Homo sapiens: one gene and its partners. The protein of the gene in region 4 purifies or fractionates together with the protein of the main gene of each other region. This does not show direct contact. Each region holds a gene or a part of one and is shown on either strand. Other genes may lie near its edges.

Region 1 (3,500 bases), on a different chromosome or scaffold from region 4:
ACGACAGAGTCTCACTATGCTGCCCAGGCTGGTCTTGAACTCCTGGGCTCAAGTGATCCTCCCACCTTCGCCCCCGAAGCCATTTCTTGATGCCCTAAAGAAGAAAAGTTCTAAGTGGATGTCATCACTATTAATCACCTGACAAGCACTGATCAGGCTGTATGCACAGAATTTGACAGTGGACAAACTTTTCTGTCCACCGTTCCTAAGAAAGGGGATTTCTATAAATGAAATCTCATCAGAAGAAAGGTTGGAAACCTGGCCAGGCACGGTGGCTCATGCCTGTAATCCCAGCACTTTGGGAGGCTGAGGTGGGAGGATCACGAGGTCAGGAGATCGAGACCGTCCTGGCTAACACAGTGAAACCCCATCTCTACTAAAAATACAAAAAATTAGCCAGGTGTGGTGGCGGGTGCCTGTAGTCCCAGCTGCTCGGGAGGCTGAGGCAGGAGAATGGCGTGAACCCGGGAGGCGGAGCTTGCACTGAGCCGAGATCGCCCACTGCACTCCAGCCTGGACAACAGAGTGAGACTCCATCTCAAAAAAAAAAGAAAGGTAGGAACCCAGTGTAAGTTATATATAAACATTTACTTAATATCATAAACGAACTTTGTTCAAAAACTCTTTCGACTGATTTCTGTTAGCTGAATCTTTTATTCAATCCCTTATCTAAAAATAAACAGAAGGCCAGGTGCGGTGGTTCATGCCTGTAACCTCAACACTTTGGGAGGCCAAGGTGGGTGGATCACGAGGTCAGGAGATCGAGACCATCCTGGCTAACATGGTAAAACCCCGTCTCTACTAAAAATACAAAAAATTAGCCGGGCATGGCGGCCAGCGCCTGTAGTTCCAGCTACTCGGGAGGCTGAGGCAGGAGGATGGTGCGAACCTGGGAGGCAGAGCTTGCAGTGAGCCAAGATAGCGCCACTGCACTCCAGCCTGGGCGACAGCAACACTCCGTCTCAAAAATAAACAAACAAACAAACAAACAAACAAACAGAAAACAGGCTGGGCACAGTGGCTCACACCTGTAGTCTCAGCACTTTGGGAGGCCAAGGCAGGTGGATTGCTTGAGGCCAAGAATTCAAGACCAACCTGGCCAACATGTCAAAATCCATCTCTACTAAAAATACAAAAATTAGCTGGACATGGTGGTGTGTGCCTGTAGTCCCAACTACTCTGCAAGCTGAGGCATGAGAATCACTTGAACCTGGGAGGCGGAGGCTGCAGTGAGCCAAGATTGTGCCACCACACTCCAGCCTGGGCGATAGAGTGAGACTCTGTCAAAAAAAAAAGGAAAACAATTAATTGCTTTAGGATCTTCTAAAGGAAAAGGAATCTCCCCTGCCCTCTGGCCAGGGACCCCTACAGTACACCCCAAGTTAAGCTACATATTATAAAAGCCCTCTTATTCCACGCATTCAGTTCCAGTACCAGGTGGGGTTCATCAGAGATAAATCCAGCAACCATTTAAAATGATATGTGAAAGTGTATGTATACACACACTTCAGACATTTTGTTTTGACTTAATATACAAAAGTATATTCATTTGACAATCTTTTGAAATAGAGCTGAGTAGGTCTTATGAGTTCACTGAATAGAGCTCTTTTTTTAATAAACCATACCATTGTATTGTCTGCAATTTCCACAATTTACAGTTTGGGGGTTTTTAAAATATTTTTTGAGACTAAGTCTTGCTCTGTCACTCAGTCTGGAAGGCAGTTGCACTATCTCGGCTCACTGCAACCTCCACCTCCCGGGTTCAAGCGATTCTCCTGCCTCAACCTTTCCAGTAGGTGGGATTACAGGCGTGTGCCATGACGCCCGGCTAATTTTTGTATTTTTAGTAGAGACAGGGTTTCACCATGTTGGCCAGGATGGTCTCAAACTCCTGACCTCAAGTGATCCACCAACCTTGGCCTCCCAAAGTGCAGGGATTACAGGTGTGAGCCACCGTGCCCAGCCTGGGTTTTTCTTAAATAAGGCAAGATTGCAAAAATTTGCAAGGCAATCTAAGTGCAGAATCTTCCTCAGTTTTTACAAAATTCCTCCCAATCTTTTATAGCTGACCCACTCATCCATAATTTCATAGCATTTCCTGAGTCAGCATTCAACTTAGGCTTCCTAGGAATAATTCTTTTTATAATCGATTTTCATCAGTTCATATAATCTTTTATGAAATTATATAATTACAGTAATAAGAACTAGCCCAACAGCTTTGGAATATATCCAACATCTCTTATGAGCCCCCAGGGCTAAAGTGTGCTGAAAGAAGTGGGGAGCGCCAGTTATATGGAGGCCAAGGAAGAGAACATCTCCTGTGTATAAAAGCTATTTATAAACCACTGTAGATAGAGCCTACATTTTCAAATTATTTTCTAAAAGACTCACCAGGTAAGGATGAAAGAATTTCTATATCTACTTGCTGGGTCTCTGGATTGTGGCTTAATATTCTTCCTTCCTTTCAAAAATAAAAGTCCAAGTCAAAATCAACATGTAAAACACTGTGAATATACTAAAAACCACTGAATTGTAGACTTTAAAATGGTTAAAATGTTGAATTTTATGTTATGTGAATTTTATCTCAGTTGAAAAATTTAGAAATAAATCCACATATAGAGAAAATAAAAACAGGTGGACTGATAAACACTTTATGTGAATATACAGAAATATCTTTAGAGGCAAAATAAAACATTTAAATCATAAATGGCAGACACTATCTTAAATAACTCGATGAAAGTAAAGATTACACCAGGGAACCAAAAGTGACTGAATAAGGGAAAAGGAGAAAAAAATCACACCAGGCTGATATATTCAAGTGAGCACTGACCATCACAGCATTCATCAGGAGAGACTAGATATATCCTAATGGTGCAGCCTCGGTTCCTGATGCTTTTAGAACCCTTCTAAAACAGTGATCACAACCCCCCAGGAGAAACCAGAAGGCACTTTATCACTGTTAAGATCCCAATTCTCCTTCTCCCAGGTCTCCAGCTGTGGGAGCTGATTTTCTAATGCATCAAGAGGATGCACTGCCCATGCACGTGGGCGATGGGGAGACACATGGTAGCCTCCGGGGGTATATACTGAGAGGCCAAGCAACCAGTTCCTCCTGCCTCTACCTGGAATTTCTGAGCACAGTCAACAGTTTTTTTTAAAACCAGACTCAACAGGGAATCAGGGGCTTGGGAGACTACATTTTTTAGTACAGAATTGAACCAATTTAATTTTTGGAGACAAGGTTAATGAATAAAGCAGATGATCAAGCTGGATAACTGCGTTTGAGGTCAAAGCAAAAAAGTAGGACCAATTTTCATTCTTAAAATGTTTTTGAAAGCAATTTCAAAAATCTTCAAAAAATTTTGCCAACTAAAGTAGGCAAAACACCTTCCAACATTAATAACTATGACAACTAATACCAATTTAATATGCAATTTTTTTTAAGAGTCTCGTTTTGTCACCCAGGCTGGAGTGCAGTGGCATGATCTCAGCTCACTGCA
Region 2 (2,365 bases), on a different chromosome or scaffold from region 4:
TTTAAAACAGAAGTCAGATCATATCACTCCCCTGCCAAAACCCTCCCACAGCCGTACACTATCTGATTGCATCTACTACTTTCTCCCTTGATGATGATGTCTCAGCCCTGTTTCTGGAAGATGTCACGTACACTCCTGCCTCAGGGCTTTGCAACTGCTGGTTGTTCTGCCTGGCATGTTCTTCCTTCTTGTTATGCAAACAATTCACCTTCTTCAAGTATTTGCTCAAATATCAGCCCTCAGTAAGGCCTTTCCAAGAACCCTATTTTAAACTGCAAACTCTTTCATCTATAGGCGCCCTCTCATCTCTGCATTATTTCTCTCCATAGAATTTATCACCTGCTGATACACTGCTTTTTACTTACTTTGGTTAATGTCTTATCTTCCTATCAAAATGTAAACTACTCAAAGGTAGTAATTTTTGTCTAGTTTGTTTTCTGCTGTATCCCCAGCAACTAAAATACTCAAATTTTTGATGAATGAATGAATATGCCAAATGATTGAATTGTAAAAAACTTTATGAACTGAGAGGTCCTAACTCCAAAAAGAACATTAAAGACGAAGTGTAAGAGCATTACAAATGATCGCCAATACACACAAAGGCAGAGTTGCAGTGAAAATCAACAGCCAGCTGAACTGTGGGTGAAATTCCCTTTATATAAACATGGCCTTATAATCAGATGACCTCAGATGGGTCTCTGGTGTGTACAAAGAAAGCAAAACCAATTTTCCCATGAGTGCCTCTGGACACTCATGTAAGAGTTACAGATGTTGACTACATTTAAACATTTATCATGCTTCCAAAAACATATTTGTAAGAGAAAAAAATATAAAAATAAAAATGTACAAAGTTCTTTATTAAAATAATAGCTTAAATAAATCCTCTGTCAACACCAGACAGAGTCAGTGACTGGATCTAGACTCTAGAGCTTAGAGCTTTTTACATAGTTACATGAAAACATTTGAATCCGTCTTCACAGACAGTGCCACGATGACAATCTGGTTAAAACCAATAAGCCATCTTCCAGATGCAGCTTAAGAGTTCAGGCGAGAAAAGGAACTGAGGAAAATGACTGTACATAATATGGTTCTCATTCTATTTGCCTTTTTTCGTCTTGGCTGTCTTCTCCTTTCTTTTTTTCACATGTTTAGGAATTTTGTTTTTTCTTTTCTCTCTCTGGGCTTCCTTGACCATCTTTTTTCTTTCCTGTAAAAAACAAACAAAAAAGCCAACTTTCATTCATTTGGAGTATGCATTTTTTGTTTTTGTTTTTTGTTTTTTGTTTTTTAGACAGGGTCTTGCTCTGTCGCCCAGGCTGGAGTCAGTGGCGTGACCATGGTTCACTTCAGCCTCCACCTCCTGGGCTCAAGCAATCCTCCCACCTCAGCCTCCTGGGTAGCTGGGACAACAGGTGTGCACCACCACACCTGGCTAGGTTTTTTTGGGGTATTTTTTGGTAGAGATGGGGCTTCGCCAGATTGCACAGGCTGGTCTCGACCTCCTGGGCTCAAGTGATCCACCCACCTTGATCTCCCAAAATGCTGAGATTACAGGCATGAGCCACTGCACCCACCTGGAGTATTATTATGATTATAACTAAATAAAATACACACATAGAAGAATAAAAGTGAGTGTAATGTAAAGAAAAGAAAAGAAAATGATTATGGGTTGGTGGAGGAACTTGGGGTGAAAACTGTCTTTCAGTTTTTTCTTTTTAGAGACAGGGACTCACTCTGTCACCCAGGCAGGAGGGCAGTGGCATGACCATTGTGCACTGCAGCCTCAAGCTCCTGGGCTCAAGCAATCCTCTTGCCTCAACCTCCCCAGTAGCTGAGACTACAGGCATGAGCCACCATAACCGGCCTTGAGCTTCCTCTTTTTTTTTTTTTTTTTGAGACGGAGTCTCTGTCGCCCAGGCTGGCATGCAGTGGCGTGATCTCGGCTCACTGCAAGCTCCGCCTCCTGGGTTCACGCCATTCTCCTGCCTCAGCCTCCCAAGGAGCTGGGACTACAGGCGCCTGCCACCACGCCCGGCTAATTTTTTGTATTTTTAGTAGAGATAGGGTTTCACCATGTTAGCCAGGATGGTCTCGATCTCCTGACCTCGTGATCCACCTGCCTTGGCCTCCCAAAGTGATGGGATTACAGGCGTGAGCCACCGCGCCCAGCTGAGCTTCCTTAATAGAAATGTGAAGACAGCCAAACAGAAATATCCCTAAGAATGTTATTAAATGTTTGCAAATACTTTTCTTTACAAGTTCCATATTCTAACAGAAATAGACATTGGAAAGAGACAAAATATGTGTTTCTAGTAGACATATGAGAAAATATGCTAGCAGCTGAGTATGTCCCTCAGAAGTCTTG
Region 3 (3,500 bases), on a different chromosome or scaffold from region 4:
ATGGTGAAACCGTCTCTACTAAAAATACAAAAAAATTAGCTGGGCGTAGTGGCAGATTCCTGTAATCCCAGCTATTCAGGAGACTGAGGCAGGAGAATTGCTTGAACCCGAGAGGCGGAGGTTGGAGTGAGCCGAGATCGTGCCACTGCACTCCAGCCTGGGCAACAGAGCGAGACTCCTTCTCAAAAAAAAAAAGTAAAATAAAATAAATAGTATACAATTCATTGGTTGGTTATTTACTATTGGGTAAAAAAATAAACAAACAAAAAGTATACAATTGGCTGGGCATGGTGGCTCATGGCCTGTAATCCCAGCACTTTGGGAGGCCGAGGCAGGTGGATCACCTAAGGTTAGGAGTTGGAGACCAGCCTGGCCAACATGGTGAAACCCCATCTCTACTAAAAATACAAAAAATTACCTGGGTGTGGTGGTGGGCACCTATAATCCTAGCTACTCGGGAGGCAGAAAGCAGGAGAATCACTTGAACCTGGGAGGCAGAGGTTGCTGTGAGCCAAGATCGTGCCACTGCACTCCAGCCTGGGTGACAGAACGAAACTCCATCTCAAAAAAAAAAAAAAAAAAAGTATACAATTTAGGGGTGGGTGTGGTGGCTGATACCTGTAATCCCAGCCCTCTGGGAGGCCGAGGTGGGAGGATCACTTGAGATCAGGAGTTTGAGACCAGCCTGGCTAATGTGGTGAAACCACATCTCTATTAAAAATACAAAAATTAGCCAGGTGTAGTGGTGCGTGTCTTTGATTCCAGCTACTAGGGAGGCTGAGGTAGGATAATTGCTTGAACCCCGGGAGGCAGAGGTAATAATGAGCCGAGAGTGTGCCACTGTACTCAAGTCTGAGTGACAGAGACACTCTGTCTCAAAAAAAAAAAAAAAAAAATACAATTCAGTGAGTGTTAGTATATTCACAGGGTTCTTCAACCCTCATGACTGATTCCAGAATGTTTTCACCACTCCAAAAAGAAACGCCTTATCCTTTCTTGGTTACTTCCCATTTGTGATTTAGGCCTGTGTACTGGTGAAGCCATCCTCCTGGTTGAGTTAATTGTTATGTATGGTGTGAGGTAAAGGTTCAACATCATTGTTTTGCATGTGGCTATCCAGTTGTCCCAGCACAATTTGTTGACAAGACTGTTCTTTCCCCATTGAATCTTCTTGACACCGTTGTTCAAAATCAGTTGACCAAAGATGTGTGAATTTCTTTCAGGGTCTCAATTCCATTCCCTTCATCTGAATGTCTATCTTTATGCTAGCACCACTCTGTCTTGGTGCTACCTTACTCTAGCAGGAACCTTTTTATAAACAAGATGAGGGTCCAGCTTTACCATTGGAGGATATAAAAGAATATGGACTTTTTTGCCTAAAGCAGTCCTGTTTTTCCTCTTCTTTTTTTTTCTTTTTGAGACGGAGATTCGCTCTTGTTGTCCAGACTGGACAGACTGGAGTACAATGCACAATCTCGGCTCACAGTAACCTCCGCCTCCCGGGTTCAAGCAATTGCCTCCTGAGTAGCTGGGATTACAGGCATGCACCACCATATCTGGCTAATTTTGTATTTTTAGTGGAGATGGGGTTTTGCCATGTTGGTCAGGCTGGTTTTGAACTCCTGACCTCAAGTGATCCACCCGCCTAGGCCTCCCAAAGTGTTGAGATTAGGCGTGAGCTACTGCGCCCGGCGTTTTTCCTCTTCTTGCTAATATTTTACCTTTAAAAAAATATGGCCAGTGAATATCATTGAACTCACCAACTTACAACAATATAGTTGTTATATTGCTGTTATTCCTAGATAGTGAGTTCTTGAAGACAGGGTTTATGAGTTTGTATTTATGCCTCGCACAGTGTTTATTACATGAATTGATTTTTTTTTTTTTTTTTTTTTGGAGACAGAGTCTCCCACTGTCGCCCAGGCTGGAGTGCAGTGGCGCCATCTCAGCTCACTGCAAGCTCCGCCTCCTGGGTTCATGCCATTCTCCTGCCTTAGCCTCCCTAGTAGCTGGGACTACAGGCGCCCACCACCACGCCTGGCTAATTTTTTGTATTTTTAGTAGAGACGGGGTTTCACCATGTTAGCCAGGATGGTCTCTATCTCCTGACCTCGTGATCCACCCACCTCGGCCTCCTAAAGTGCTGGGATTACAGGCGTGAGCCACTGCACCCAGCTGCATGAATTGATTTTTTAAAAGATTTTTAAAGTGGACTCATTCTGTTACATGGATCCTTAATAAATGTTTAAAAAAATTCTAATTATATCAGGAAAAGTTATAGGGTGGGTCATAGTGTAATCACATCATTGGGAAGAGTAGGGGACAAATAATGTAGATAAAATGAGGTTTTTAGAGGCAGACTGGGGTGAGAGTAAAATGTTTGGAATAGGAGTGAGGGAAAGAATTGTTTTTCTACTTTTTTTTGAGACAGGGTCTCGCTGTCTCTCAGGCTGGTGTGTAGTGGTGCAATCACAATCACAGCTCACTGCAGCCTCAACATCCTGGGCCCAAGTGATGCTCTTATCATAGCCTCCCAAGTAATTGGAACTACAGGTGTGTGCTGCCATGCCTGGCTAATTTTCTTTTTCTTTTCTTTTTTTTTTTGAGACAGGGTGTGGTTGTGTCACCCAGACTGGAGTGCAGTGGTGCGATCTCGGCTCATTGCAATCTCAGCCCCCGGGCTCAAGCAATCCTCCCATCTCTTCCTCTCCAGTAGCTGGGATTACCTGGCTAATTTAAAAAAATTGTACTGGCCAGGTGCAGTGGCTCACACCTGTAATCCCAGCACTTTAGGAGGCCGAGTTTAGGAGTTTAGGAATTAGAGACCAGCCTGGCCAACATGGTGAAACCCCATTTTTACTGAAAATACAAAAATTAGCTGGGCATGGTGGCATGTGCCTGTAATCCCAGCTACTAGGGAGACTGAGGCAGGAGAATCGCTGGAACCTGGGAGGCAGAGGTTGCAGTAAGCCGAGATCACCCCGCTGCACTCCAGCCTGGGTGACAGAGTAAGACTCCATCTCAAAAAAAAAAAATTGTTTGTAGAGATGGGATCTCACTATGTTGCCCTGGTTGGTCTCCAACTCCTGGGCTCAAGCAGTTCTCCTGCCTCAGCCTCCCAAAGTGCTGGGATTACAGGCATGAGTCACTGCACCTGGCTGAAAATTGCTTTTCTAGATATGTCCCCTGTTATTATGAAAACAGCAAGCAAATATTCTCAATTTATGGGATAGTCTCCATTTCAAATATTCTCATCCACTGTAGATCTCGTGCTTAGATTCTTGGTTCCAAAATCATCATCTCTGCCCCTGTTGTTTACCAGGGAGTGTTTGCCATTGTGGAGATGGGGGACGTGGGTGCTCGAGAGGCTGTCTTGTCACAGTCCCAGCACAGCCTGGGAGGACATCGCCTGCGTGTCCGCCCACGGGAGCAGAAGGAGTTCCAGAGCCCGGCCTCCAAATCCCCCAAAGGAGCGGCCCCCGACAGTCACCAGCTGGCCA
Region 4 (3,159 bases):
TACCTTCTTAAATGCAACAGGATAAACAAGAGCTAAGGAGTTTATTTTTTATTTTTATTTTTTAATGATACCAAAGTCCTTATTCTGAGTTCCCGTTAAAAGTCTCATACTTTGGTGTTACCTAATGTTCTGCTTAGTGGTCTTCTCATGACTACCAACATGAACTCGTAGGATGTGTGGTCCGTAGGAATGAAACAAAATGAAATGCTTGGGTCACTTTGGCCAAACTAGAGGTGGTTCTCCCTTCCACCTTCCATGCCTACTCGGCTTCTGAGAGGTCTGCTCAAAGCGAACAGTAAGGTGTCTTCATCAAAGAACATAGCACAGATGAATCAAATAAGTCAAGATCCTCTTTAAGAGCCAATGATGTGAACTTGGGAGTCTAAAGATGAGTGTCACTGATTACATCATGGGAAATGTGACATGAAGGGAAGCATCAGAATGCCAGTACAGCCGCCCCCCAACCCTGCCCCCCAAGTCCTAGGGGTAGTGTGCACGTTAAAGGATCTACCCTATCAACACGCACAGAACCCAACCTGCCAGTGACTGCTGCCATTAGCTGTCTTGAGGTGAGACAAGATCATAACATTTCTTAGGAAAAAGAGGAGGTCAAATAAGGATATGAAAAATAGGATAAATAATTCTATAAATAGAAAGGACTAGAAAGCCAGGAAATAATGTATGTAAAAATATGATATGAAGAAATAAGGTCCTGTAAGCATAGGGGACAGACTCTTATTATAAAAGTCAGGAAGTTTAGTTTATAGCAAAGAGATCCAACTATTTAGGGGGTTGAAGACATCCAGAATTAAAGAAATCAACAAAAAATCTGAACTCAAGAATCCCAGAGTTTCTGGGAGATGGAACCAAAAAGTGGGGTAATTCTCATAATTCTGATATCTTTCCCTCCCCACCAAAAATACAAATATGACTTTATTATAATTTTCATTTTTAAACTAGGTACTTAAAAATAACTATAAAAATCATAGCAATTTATTAGTTGTTAAAAACTGAGTAACTTTTTCTATTTTGCCATTTTTGCCAAACTGAAGGATGCAAATCTGCATAGAAAGCATCTGAATGTTTAATAGAGAAGGGACAAATAGGACGAACTGCCAAATTATGCAAATCAAAGACAGCAGGGAAACGGTGCCCATTCTTACATCTCCAACTTCCAGGCTACAAGAAGCAGGAATATGTGTTGGGGAGATATACTACACTATATTCGAGAAAGCAGGGTTCCAGGTAAGGAGAACAATGTCCCTCAGTTCCTCATCACTAAAGGAAGGGAAGGAGAGAATTTTGGTTTCAAAATTCCATGAAGCATCTACAAAATAACTGGTCAAACTGAAGATCTGACATATAAGCATTTTAAAATAATCAAGCCTAAAAGTGGACTTTTAAATTATCTAGAAACCTCTTTGGTGATCTGGATTATAAATAGAAAGGCTTATTTTGAATGCTGTACTGTAGGGCGAAGAAATGTTACCATTGTTTCCTCGGATAAATGCATCCCCATACTTATTCTTCAGTTGTCCATTTACATATTCTTCTGTCTGCTCCAGGGCTATATTCATGTAGCCATCCAGGCAAGCCAGGACCCCTGCAGACATATTTAGTCAAAAAGAAGATACACAAGGCAAATAAGAGTTGAAAATTACAGGGTATACCTTAGAGCAGACAATCTCTTTATTCATTAGTTCTTAGATGCTTAATATAAAAATTCACACCATAAATGAAACTCAACAGCTTAAGCACAAAACAACTCTATGCCAATCTGAATGAAGTCTAGGAAGGCAGTCACGCACCCACTACTACCCGGTAAAACAACAAACTGTCACTTCCCTCATGGTACGTATGACCACACAGAAACTTTTAAAGCATTCAAAAAAGTAAGAGAATAAGACTATTCCGGCAAAAATACCATTCTTTGAAAGCTAAGCACAAGGTGGGCAATTATGCATAAACAAATGATCCTTGGTTCCAGTGGCATTTCCTACTTTAGCCACTAAGTGAAATACGGGTCTGGCAGATTTATTTCATTCTTTTACAACATCTATTGCAGCAGATGAATGTACTCCAGGGTTAAAAGGAAGTCTCCACAATCTGTTAAAATAATAGAAGAGGAGACAGCAGGTGCTCCCGAAAGAACATCTTAAAGCTGTGACTCACAGTGAAGAGCAGCTTGAGAATATAGGGCAACATATTGCATTATAACACATCTTGTTCTGTTTTGTTACAGCTATAATATTTTCCAATCAAAACTAATAGAGAAAATGGCCAAAAACATTCGAGGGAGCTTTCAAGGAAACAGTTTGAGTCAATCTTTAATTGTGTTAAGATGGTATAAATTTTGTAAAATTTGACCTGATGATCTTTTTCAAAAGATGAAAATCTGTAAGCCTCTAATTCTGTCTCTAATTTAAAGTGGTATTTCCTAGAAAAAAAAATTTAAGTAAAAACAAATACTAGATTCAATTCAGTCGAGTCTATAGTTTCTCATTTGATGTCTTAACTTCATTAATATGCTCCTCACTCTCTGCCTCTGCCCCCATTATCCTCTAAACAAAAAAGTTTCCTTTCAAAATTGTGTAATGACAGCAAAAGACATTAATCTACCAGAATTCTGCTAAAAGCGGTAAACTCTCAAAGAACGAGAATGGACTGTGAATAATAAAATTATTTCCTAGCAAAAGAAAGCTTAAGCTACAACTTTAGCTCGTTTCCTGCTGTACTATTTTACATACAAACTGCAATTATAAATGAGCAAGAAAAATCTGAGGCACAATATGCAAACCTGTTTGAAAACCAATGAAAAGAATTTCAAAATGAAATGTCCAGGCTGGGCAAAGTGGCTCATGCCTGTAATCCCAGTACTTTGGGAGGTAGAAGCTGGCAGATCACTTGAGGTCAGGAGTTCAAGATCAGCCTGGCTAACATGGCGAAACCCCGTCTCTACTAAAAATACAAAAATTAGCCAGGCATGGTGGCAGGTGCCTGTAATCCCAGCTACTTGGGAGGCTGAGGCAGGAGAATCGTCTGAACTTGGGAGGCGGAGGTTGCAGTGAGCCAAGACTGAGCCACTGCACTCCAGCCTGGGCGAAAGAGTGAGACTCGGTCTCAAAAAAGAAAAAAGAAAAAAAAAAAAGAGTTCACTTC
Region 5 (2,437 bases), on a different chromosome or scaffold from region 4:
AACAGGAAAACAATCAGCTACAAAATCACCAGTGTCTCCTGGATTCCAATCCTTGGTCAACAGTGCTAGATCTACAGAAGCAAAACTAAAATTTTTTTTCTTTCACAGAGTAGTTTTAAGCCTCCAAGCGTTTGAATCTTTAAAATGTCATTCAGGGACTTTAAATGAAGTAGTGAAGGCTGGGCACGGTGGCTCACACCTGTAATCCCAGCACTTTGGGAGGCCAAGGCGGGTGGATTACTTGAGGCCAGGAATTTGAGAACAGCCTGGCCAACGTGGTGAAACCCCATCTCTACTAAAAATACAAAAAATTAGCCGGGTGTGGTGGCGAGCACCTATAGTCCCAGCTACTCAGGAGGCTGAGGCACAAAAATCGCTTAAACCCAGGAGGTGGAGGTTCCAACGAGCCAAGTTCGCGCTGCTGCACTCCAGCCTGCGTGACACAGTGAGACTGTCTCCATAAATAAATAAATGGGAAAAAAGCAGACGAAGCATACTGGTTTCTCTTTTTAACCTTTATTTACAAAGAACACAACTCCTCTTGACACAAACACACACACATTTCAAGGAGGAGCCCATTAAGAACAACAACAGACTGGCGAGAATGACGGGGCCTTATTGAACACTGTCAATAAGGAACACTGGTCTGTGTACCCCAGACTAGGGGTCACTGCAAACATTTTCTCAGATATGACTTTTCACCTCCAAGACAGGAAAAGAGATCTTGACGTGGAGGCCCGCCCACCTACAAGGCAGAAAGCTCCACACTCAATCTTCAGCATCGTCAAACTGTCCTGTTTCAAAGACCATCTTGGAATAATAGGGTATCAGTGGAGGCGGATGGTGCCAGCTGGGGTCATAGATCATGTCTCCTTGTGGGGCACAGCACACCCAAGGTTTAAGCTCTTGAGAAATGCTCTCCTGGATGTCGTCAGCATCTGCAGGCAGTTTTAAAAGACAGATTAAGGGAAGGAAGGAGGGAAGGAAGGAAGGTAAAAACGGACAGCCAAAAAGGTATGTCTAGGGGACAGATCCTTGCACTTATTTTGTTTAAAAACACACACAGTTCTCCTTTCCTGAAGAATTGTAAATGCGTTCATTCGGAACAGCTGAGAAGCTATGCTTCTCAGACAAGGGTTCTTAGCAGTGAAGAAGCAAACTGGATAACACAGCACTTCTATCTGCAGCTGCTCAATTCATAGCAGAGATTTTTGGAGAGAGTAACAGTTTTGACTTTAAAACAGTGATACATTATGGAGTCAAATGCAAAATTTGGATTTTTTCAATATAAAAGAGAAGGTGTCACAGAAATTGGAGACCTGTAACAGATACCAGCCTAAGCTCATAGATGTGGACCCCTGTTCCAAACTGCCTTCAGGGCTGGTCTGACAGGTGTGTCTGAGAAGGCCTAGTTCAGGACCCCCAGAGACTCCACACCTACCATATGGATTCCCTTGATCTGCTTTCAACTCCGAGTCCCAGTCCTCATTAAAAAGATCGCCAGGCTGTTCCTTGGGTGGACAGTTTGTCCCTTCTGACAGCTCCCAGGTATTCAGTTCTCCATCAGAGTCCTCCTCATCCATGGCAAAGCCTTCCTCTTCAGAATGGGTGCCCTCACCCCGGGCAGGACTGTCATTAGGAATGCTCTGTGTTCCACGGGCTAAATTGACAAAGAGAAGATGGCCTTAGTGACAAACCAAAGAGGACCTGCTCTGTGCTCAGTAAATTTTGGGCAGACTTACTACGAAGGTAGTAAAACAAGTGCACAGAGTCTTCTTTAGCCACCGAGCACTTTTTTAAAAATGCACTTCTTTGTATGTTTTTAAAAGAGCTGATAATTTATTTTCAATAAGACGTTTTGTCTTATACAAGGCATTAATTGTCAGGTCCTTTAATTTACAAAGAGGGCTAGGGACAGTTAACATTTTCAGGTGGTTTGTATGTCACTGAGGCAAAGGGCCTCTGATAAATAATACACTTTCACAATACAAGCCTGAATTAAGTTTTTGCTCTTTTTTTTTTTTTTTTGAGACAGAGTCTCGCTCTGTCGCCCAGGCTGGAATGCAATGGCACCATCTCGGCTCACTGCAACCTCTACCTCCCAGGTTCAAGCAATTCTCTGCCTCAGCCTCCTGAGCAGCTGGGATTACAAGCGCCCGCCACCACGCCCAGCTAATTTTTTTGTATTTTTAGTAGAGACGGGGTTTCACCATCTTGGCCAGGCTGGTCTTGAACCCCTGACCTTGTGATCCACCCGCCTCGGCCTCCCAAAGTGCTGGGATTACAGGCGTAAGCCACTGTGCCCGGTTGTTTTTGCTCTTTTATTCCTCCCTTCAGCCTCAAAGAGCATGTTAGAGGTGAGCACAGGGACAAAGGGGAGCAGGGGCACTGCAGGCAGAAGACCAGAACCCATCTAATCACAATGGGCAGCACCTAG
Region 6 (3,500 bases), on a different chromosome or scaffold from region 4:
GAACAAACACCAGTCTAGGTATGGGCATGCACTAAAAACCTTGTGAGGAAGACAAGTGTCAAGTTGCAAGGATGACAAATGGCATACAGAAAGCTGTGAAAGCCTTTAGCTGACAGGAATGGGGCAAGGAAAGGGATAGTTGACCTAGACGAGGTGGTCATGGGTAGAGAGGTTTGAGCTGAGATTCCGGCATTAACAAAACCAAGAGGAGCAAAGAGAAAGCTCCAGCCAGAGAAGGCTTTTCCTGGGGCCAAGGGAACCTGGCAAGCCCAAGGAAGGGTAGAAGAGCTCGGGCAGAAAAAGCAAGGGCTGAAGGAGAGACGAACAACGACAAAACCTCAGAGAACATGGAAAAGAGGTTGTCTTTATCCTATCGATGGGAAAATCCTGAAGTATATAAGCAGGTTGGTGACACGGCTATATTCGGGTTTAAAAAATAGTCATCTAAAGGAGGTATTATCACCCACCTCATTTTACACCTGAACAAACTGAAACTTGAAAAATTTAGGTAACCTGACCTGCACATGCAGCGGAGTCTGTGACTCAGCTGGGACTAACAAGTCTGTCAGACCCAAAGCCTGCACTCTTTCCAGCATCTACACAACTTTACAGGGGTAGAGAGGCAGAAACAAAGGCTACAGCAGGTTAAAGGATGAAAACTAAAAGCTGCGGACAGGACTCTCATCCCCTTTCTCCCTTCACCTTTGTGATGCAAAGCCTAGAAGTTAGTGGTGAAAGGAAAGAATTTTTTTCTCTTCCTTCCTCTCAATCCCCTTCCCCACCTTCCCTATCCCATCAGCACATCATCCCATCAGTCTTCTCCGGAAGGGGTAAGAAGCCATAACACAGCTAGGAGGGGAGAGAGGGCAGACATGGGGGTGATGCAGAGATGCTGCTCAGTCTCCCCTAGGAGTAAGGAATACAGGTGAAGGGAGAAGCAGAAAATGAGCGGCCTAGGGAAAGTGACACCCAGAGGTGTTCATCGAACATCTGTCAAATCAAAATACAGAACCTGGATTCTCTTCCAATCACAAATCATGTGTCCATAGGGAAGTCACTTCAACTGTCTGACATTCAGTGTCCTTAGGACCTGGCTTCTGTCTGGCTGCTCATGAAAGCAGCAGCACCTTTCACTCCCTGAGCTCTTCTAATCCCCACAGGTATACGTGATCCTAAATTTCAAACCAAACTTGCAAGTATTTTAATAAAATGTATAATTGCTGATTACACTAACTTTGTATTGCCTAAACACTTTTAATGACTATTGCACTAGGACCTTTAATTTTTTTTTTTTTTTTTTTTTTTTTTTTTTTTTTTTTTTTGAGATACAGTCTGGCTCTGTCACCCAGGCTGGAGTGCAGTGGCACAACCTTGGCTCACTGCAACCTCTGCCTCCTGGACTCAAGCAATCCTCCCACCTCAGCCTCCCAAGTAGCTAGGACCACAGGTGTGAGCCACCATGCCCAGCTAGTTTTTGTATATTTAGTAAAGATGGGGTTTTGCCATGTTGCCCAGGCTGGTCTCAAACTCCTGGGCTCGAGGGATCCATCCACCTCAGCTTCCCAAAGTGCTGGGATTACAGGCATGAGCCACCACACCTGGCCCTTATTAGGACTTTTAAAAAGTATTCCTCAACCAAAGGAATCAAATATGTATCAGTAAAATCAGAATATGATTCTTCAGTACATCAAATCTAAAATCTTATATGGCTAGGTAACTCTTCTCTTGTTATGTATATCTTCTCCCCAGCTAAACTGTGTCTCACAGACTAGATATTTCCTAGAATGACCCAAAATAATTTATTTTTTCTTTTGATATTTCTTTCATTTTAATTTTGATTTGATTTTTAACAATTTGTTAGCATTCCCTAGAGACATTCTAGTTAAACAAGGGGAAAGGCAATGTGGAAATGTGCCTGGTCAAAGAGATTATCACCCACAATCAAACAGAAATTCAAATCTGGCTCGTAATTGGGCCAAAGGGTAAAAACAGTCAGTCTTCCAAGTGAGGTGTTCTTTCCTGAGGGATTTTAATTCCTACCTCACCGCTTCAGTGGTTGTAATGAGATGCAGTAGTTTTCTCTCTCAGGGGTTTCTCAGTATGAGCTAACTGGCTAGTTCCATTTCCTATTATTTATTGCATTAATTTTTCAGATTTTAATAGATTTTTACCAAGTTTAATGGTGCAATATTAAGTTGTTACAATACTGAGTAATTTTTTAAAGAAACTATGTTGAAATAATCACTATAATAAACAAGATTAAGCAGCAAGAAACCCCAGTTTACCTTCCCAACAGAGATCTCAGAATCCTCTTTTTTCAACTGGTCATTTCTCTCTACTTCCAAAAGTTCCCTCAGATAAAATGAACAAACACTTGCAAATGACCTTGACATGCCATCTGGCAACACTTTTTCAAGTGGATTTTGCAAAATTACCGTTTAAATATGATTGTCTAAATATTTTTGGAGGCTGAGGTGGAAAGACTGCTTGAGTCCAGGAGTTCAAAGCTGCAGTGAGCTATGACTGTGCCACTGCACTCCAGCCTGGGTGCCAGAGCAAGACCCTGTCTCAGAAAAACAAATGATATTTTCCAAACCTGTTGTTTAAATACATTTCTATTACTTAAACAGAAATATTCCCTGGACAGTCCTGCTAAAATGCCACCAAATACTCTTAAAAGCTAAGAGCAAGTGGGCTAATAAGCATTTAGTTGTACTTTAAATTTAGAATAAAATTTCACAGTAAAAATAACTTTTTAAAAATAGCACCTCTTTGTTGGTGATTGGAATGGACAGGAAATAGTTGGGTTGATAATCTTTTCTCTTTTTTTTCCTCTTCTTTACTTGATCACTCTTGACCCATTCATTTTCTTGACTTCTCTTCAAATTTATTTGAGGTTCATCAGTGACTAGAGGAAAAAAGTCAAACAATACGTCTAATACATTTAAACAAAGATAATACAGTCAGAAAAAAAAACAAGCAATATATAAGTAGCAATCATTCATCAGTGTCATTTTCAAATCTAAAGCAGGAGTTTGCAAACATTTCTGTAAAGGACCTCATAGTAAATAGTTTAGGCATTGCAGATGACATAGTCTCTGCCGTTAACTACTCAACTCTGCTGTAGACAAAACATAAATGAGTGGGTACAGTTGTGTTCCTGCTTTATTTTCAAAGCAGGGTGGTTAACCAGATTTGGCCTGAGGGCCATAGTGAGCTGACTCATGATCTGAAGCACAGCTCCCGGCACCACAATGTTCATAACACTAAGAAAGATCATTTCTTCAACCATCCTGTATAGGTATGTTTGTAACTTCTAGGGTATAACCCTACTGCCACACAAAGTTTTGGTCTGGGGCCACTGTCACACTATAAACTATTTGTTGCAAAAATTAAGAGAATGCTTTGGAAACTTCCATAGCAATGGGGCAGAATAATTTGGTCTGCTGAATTTTGATTCCTACTTTGTAGGTCTTTTCTTTTATTTCATTTTCTAATAA
Region 7 (3,075 bases), on a different chromosome or scaffold from region 4:
AAATTACAAAAATTAGCCGGGCATGATGGCAGGTGCCTGTAAGCCCAGCTACTTGGGAGGCTGAGGGGGGAGAATTGCTTGAACCCAGGAGGTGAAGGTTGTAGTGAGCCGAGATGGTGCCATTGCACTCCAGCCTGGGCAACAGAGCGAGACTCTGTCTCAAAACAAAACAACAAAAAAAGTTTTCAAATAAATTCCAAGAAGAATTTCTATGTAAGAAATGAAATAAAACAGATACTAAATAAAAATATGCCACAACTGAAAATGAACGCAGGACACAGGCAATTAAACAAAAATGCAGGCTGAATGCAGTGGCTTTACACCTGTAATCCCTGCACTTTCGGAGGCTTAGGTGGGAGGATCGCTTGAGCCCAGGAGTTTTGAGACCAGCCTGGGCAACATAGTGAGACCCTGTCTCTACGAACAATTTTTTTTAATTAGCCAGGTGTGGTGGTGCTTGGTTGTGGTCCTAGCTACTCAGGAGGCTGAGGTGGGAGGATTGCTGGAGCCCAGGAAGTTAAAGCTCTAGTGAGCTGTGATTGCGCCACTGCACCCTAACTATAGCAACAGAGTGAGACTCAAAAAAAAACCAACCAAACAAAAACCAAATGTAATAAATACGATCTAACCTCACTGACCTCACTGATAAATAATAAAGAAGCCAAGGATTAACTATACCTGCTAACCAAGCAGATTAATAAATTCAAAGCAGGAACCCTCTCATCATCTTTGCTATCCTAAAAAAAAAAAAAGAAAAATTTAAATATTGTCTGTTCCTATTACTTTTGAAATAAATTTTCTATTAAGATGTAAAACACGAAACATGAAAACTTTATTATATGACAGTAATCATCATGTGGAAATAGGAGCCCTCAAAGAAAAAGCAGAGAACTGTAGAGTTAATGATTCCTTGAGAAACATCTAAGACTATCTTTTAAATAAAGATTCTGAATAGGGAAAAAAAAATAAAGAGGGATCTAAGGGGGATAACTTGGGGGAAATTTTTCCCTGGTTCCTACTAAAGGAACAATAAGAATCCTGTGTCTTAACTGTACAGTGATGAATATATATATATATATTCATATATATTATATATGTGTCTTAACTGTAGTGAATATGTATTCATATATAATAAATATATATTAATATACATATATGAATAAATATATTTATCACTGTAGTCAAGACACAGGATTCTTATTGTTCCTCTATATAATGCATACAATATATGTGAGGATATATATAGAATATATATGAATATATATAATATATATTAATCACTGTACAGTCAAGACACAGGATTCTTACTGTTCTTATATATATTCATTACTGAATTATATAAAGATATATATATAAAGATATATATATATACACACACACACACACACATATATATACACACACACACACACACACACACACCAGGTGCAGTAGCTCATGCCTGTAATCCCAGCACTTTGGGAGGCTGAGGCAGGTGGATCACTTGAAGTCAGCAGTTTGAGACCAGTCTGGCCAACATGGTGAAACCCTGTCTCTACTAAAAATACAAAAATTAGCCAGGCATGGTGGCGGGCACCTGTAATCTCAGCTACTCTGGAGGCTAAGGCAGGAGAATTGCTTGAACCTGGGAAGCGGAGGTTGCAGTGAGCCGAGACCGCACCATTGCACTCCAGCCTCGGTGACAGAGCGAGACTCCATCTCACAATAAAAGAAAAAAAAAAAAAAAAAAAAAAGGCTGAAGCTACAGCAGCCATCTTGGATCATAAGATGAGCATGAGGATGAAAGCCACATATGACAAAACTCAAAGGTGTGGGTGGGTTACTGCCATCTTAGTAAAAATCTAATTTTTTTACCTACTTCTTTTTTGAGACAGAGTCTTGCTCTGTTGCCCAGGCAGGAGTGCAGTGGTGCAATCTCAGCTCACTGCAACCTCCGCCTCCTGGGTTCGAACGATTCTCCTGCCTCAGCCTCCTGAGTAGCTGGGATGACAAGCACCCACCACCACACCCAGCTAAATTTTGTATTTTTAGTAGAGACGGGGTTTCACCATGTGGGCCAGGTTGGTCTCAAACTCCTGACCTCAGGTGAGCCACCCGCCTCAGCCTCCCAAAGTGCTGGGATTATAGGTGTGAGCCACCACGCCCGGCTCAGACTTCTTTATCTCAGAAAACATTTCCATATTATTTAAGCTACTATTATTTTGGGCTTTACAAATCTAATTGCCACCAATAAAATATTCCATGTGTTTTCCTATTTCACTGAACTCCTTCTTTACCACCATATAAATTGGTGGGTGCTTTTAATTTTAAACAGTAAGTTGCAACTTACCACTAAGAGCCTCACTTCAGAGCACCTTCTTGCAAGCTGCCGAATCAGTGAATGAGCCTCAGGTAACAAAGGCTTTTCAAGACAAGCCAATAAAGCATAAAGCCATCTTCCCTAAAAAAAAATTCAAAAAATTAATATTTAGACAAATACTGAACCAGAAGTTTATTTTTTAAATGTCCAATGTTATGCCTGATTATCTGCTATGAATAAATTCATAGAACATTTAACTATATTATGTTTGGGTATAGACAAGAAAGCCTCATTTGGAGAGCCAGGTGTTATCTCTTGTATCCTATAATTACAGACACAGGACATTGGATACCTCAAAATATTCCCTGATCTCCAAAGAGTTTGTTTCAGATATTCTTATGATAGGAAGTTCTCATTTGTAAGCAGAACACTACATTAAGATGAATATAAATACTGGAAAAAATTAAGATACATTTTTTTCTTTGTTCTGTATGGACAGATATAGAAATCATTTTATAATTGTATAATTTTGTCCTCTGGGGACATACAAAGAAACTATACTACAGATGAAATAATCTTTTGACACTTTTATAAATACTTTGACAGGCTCAATGTATCCCCACTCCCTTTTAAAATGGGGTTTTCAGCTACAAAATGAATACATATTTGATGCAGAAAAACTGTGAAGAATACCACAAGCACAAGAAAAAACCTGCAGTCCCAACATTCCAGATCAAACTTTGATTCACTTTAAAAATGTTCTTGTTTTTCCTATT

What was found.
Region 1: the proteins of LSM6 (region 4) and COIL purify together in Homo sapiens (affinity purification with mass spectrometry; one large-scale study listed by BioGRID and IntAct). This does not show direct contact.
Region 2: the proteins of LSM6 (region 4) and RIOK1 purify together in Homo sapiens (co-immunoprecipitation; 3 studies listed by BioGRID and IntAct, with this or other methods). This does not show direct contact.
Region 3: the proteins of LSM6 (region 4) and TUT1 purify together in Homo sapiens (co-immunoprecipitation; 3 studies listed by BioGRID and IntAct, with this or other methods). This does not show direct contact.
Region 5: the proteins of LSM6 (region 4) and COPRS purify together in Homo sapiens (co-immunoprecipitation; 3 studies listed by BioGRID and IntAct, with this or other methods). This does not show direct contact.
Region 6: the proteins of LSM6 (region 4) and AKAP7 purify together in Homo sapiens (affinity purification with mass spectrometry; 3 studies listed by BioGRID and IntAct, with this or other methods). This does not show direct contact.
Region 7: the proteins of LSM6 (region 4) and GEMIN2 purify together in Homo sapiens (affinity purification with mass spectrometry; 2 studies listed by BioGRID and IntAct, with this or other methods). This does not show direct contact.

What each region holds. Positions count from the first base shown.
Region 1 is NC_000017.11:56,944,051-56,947,550, forward strand, and holds part of COIL (coilin), read right to left. Parts: intron 2,462-3,500; coding exon 2,392-2,461; intron 1-2,391. UniProt on the Homo sapiens protein: Component of nuclear coiled bodies, also known as Cajal bodies or CBs, which are involved in the modification and assembly of nucleoplasmic snRNPs.
Region 2 is NC_000006.12:7,416,173-7,418,537, reverse strand, and holds the end of RIOK1 (serine/threonine-protein kinase RIO1), read right to left. Parts: intron 1,208-2,365; coding exon 1,097-1,207; 3' UTR 501-1,096; downstream 1-500. UniProt on the Homo sapiens protein: Involved in the final steps of cytoplasmic maturation of the 40S ribosomal subunit. Involved in processing of 18S-E pre-rRNA to the mature 18S rRNA. Required for the recycling of NOB1 and PNO1 from the late 40S precursor.
Region 3 is NC_000011.10:62,581,524-62,585,023, reverse strand, and holds part of TUT1 (speckle targeted PIP5K1A-regulated poly(A) polymerase), read left to right. Parts: intron 1-3,322; coding exon 3,323-3,500. UniProt on the Homo sapiens protein: Poly(A) polymerase that creates the 3'-poly(A) tail of specific pre-mRNAs. Localizes to nuclear speckles together with PIP5K1A and mediates polyadenylation of a select set of mRNAs, such as HMOX1.
Region 4 is NC_000004.12:146,185,718-146,188,876, reverse strand, and holds part of LSM6 (U6 snRNA-associated Sm-like protein LSm6), read right to left. Parts: intron 1,604-3,159; coding exon 1,490-1,603; intron 1-1,489. UniProt on the Homo sapiens protein: Plays a role in pre-mRNA splicing as component of the U4/U6-U5 tri-snRNP complex that is involved in spliceosome assembly, and as component of the precatalytic spliceosome (spliceosome B complex).
Region 5 is NC_000017.11:31,851,371-31,853,807, forward strand, and holds the end of COPRS (coordinator of PRMT5 and differentiation stimulator), read right to left. Parts: intron 1,661-2,437; coding exon 1,442-1,660; intron 939-1,441; coding exon 769-938; 3' UTR 501-768; downstream 1-500. UniProt on the Homo sapiens protein: Histone-binding protein required for histone H4 methyltransferase activity of PRMT5.
Region 6 is NC_000006.12:131,159,467-131,162,966, reverse strand, and holds part of AKAP7 (A-kinase anchoring protein 7), read right to left. Parts: intron 2,909-3,500; coding exon 2,769-2,908; intron 1-2,768. UniProt on the Homo sapiens protein: Probably targets cAMP-dependent protein kinase (PKA) to the cellular membrane or cytoskeletal structures.
Region 7 is NC_000014.9:39,131,323-39,134,397, reverse strand, and holds part of GEMIN2 (gem-associated protein 2), read right to left. Parts: intron 2,441-3,075; coding exon 2,330-2,440; intron 738-2,329; coding exon 679-737; intron 1-678. UniProt on the Homo sapiens protein: The SMN complex catalyzes the assembly of small nuclear ribonucleoproteins (snRNPs), the building blocks of the spliceosome, and thereby plays an important role in the splicing of cellular pre-mRNAs.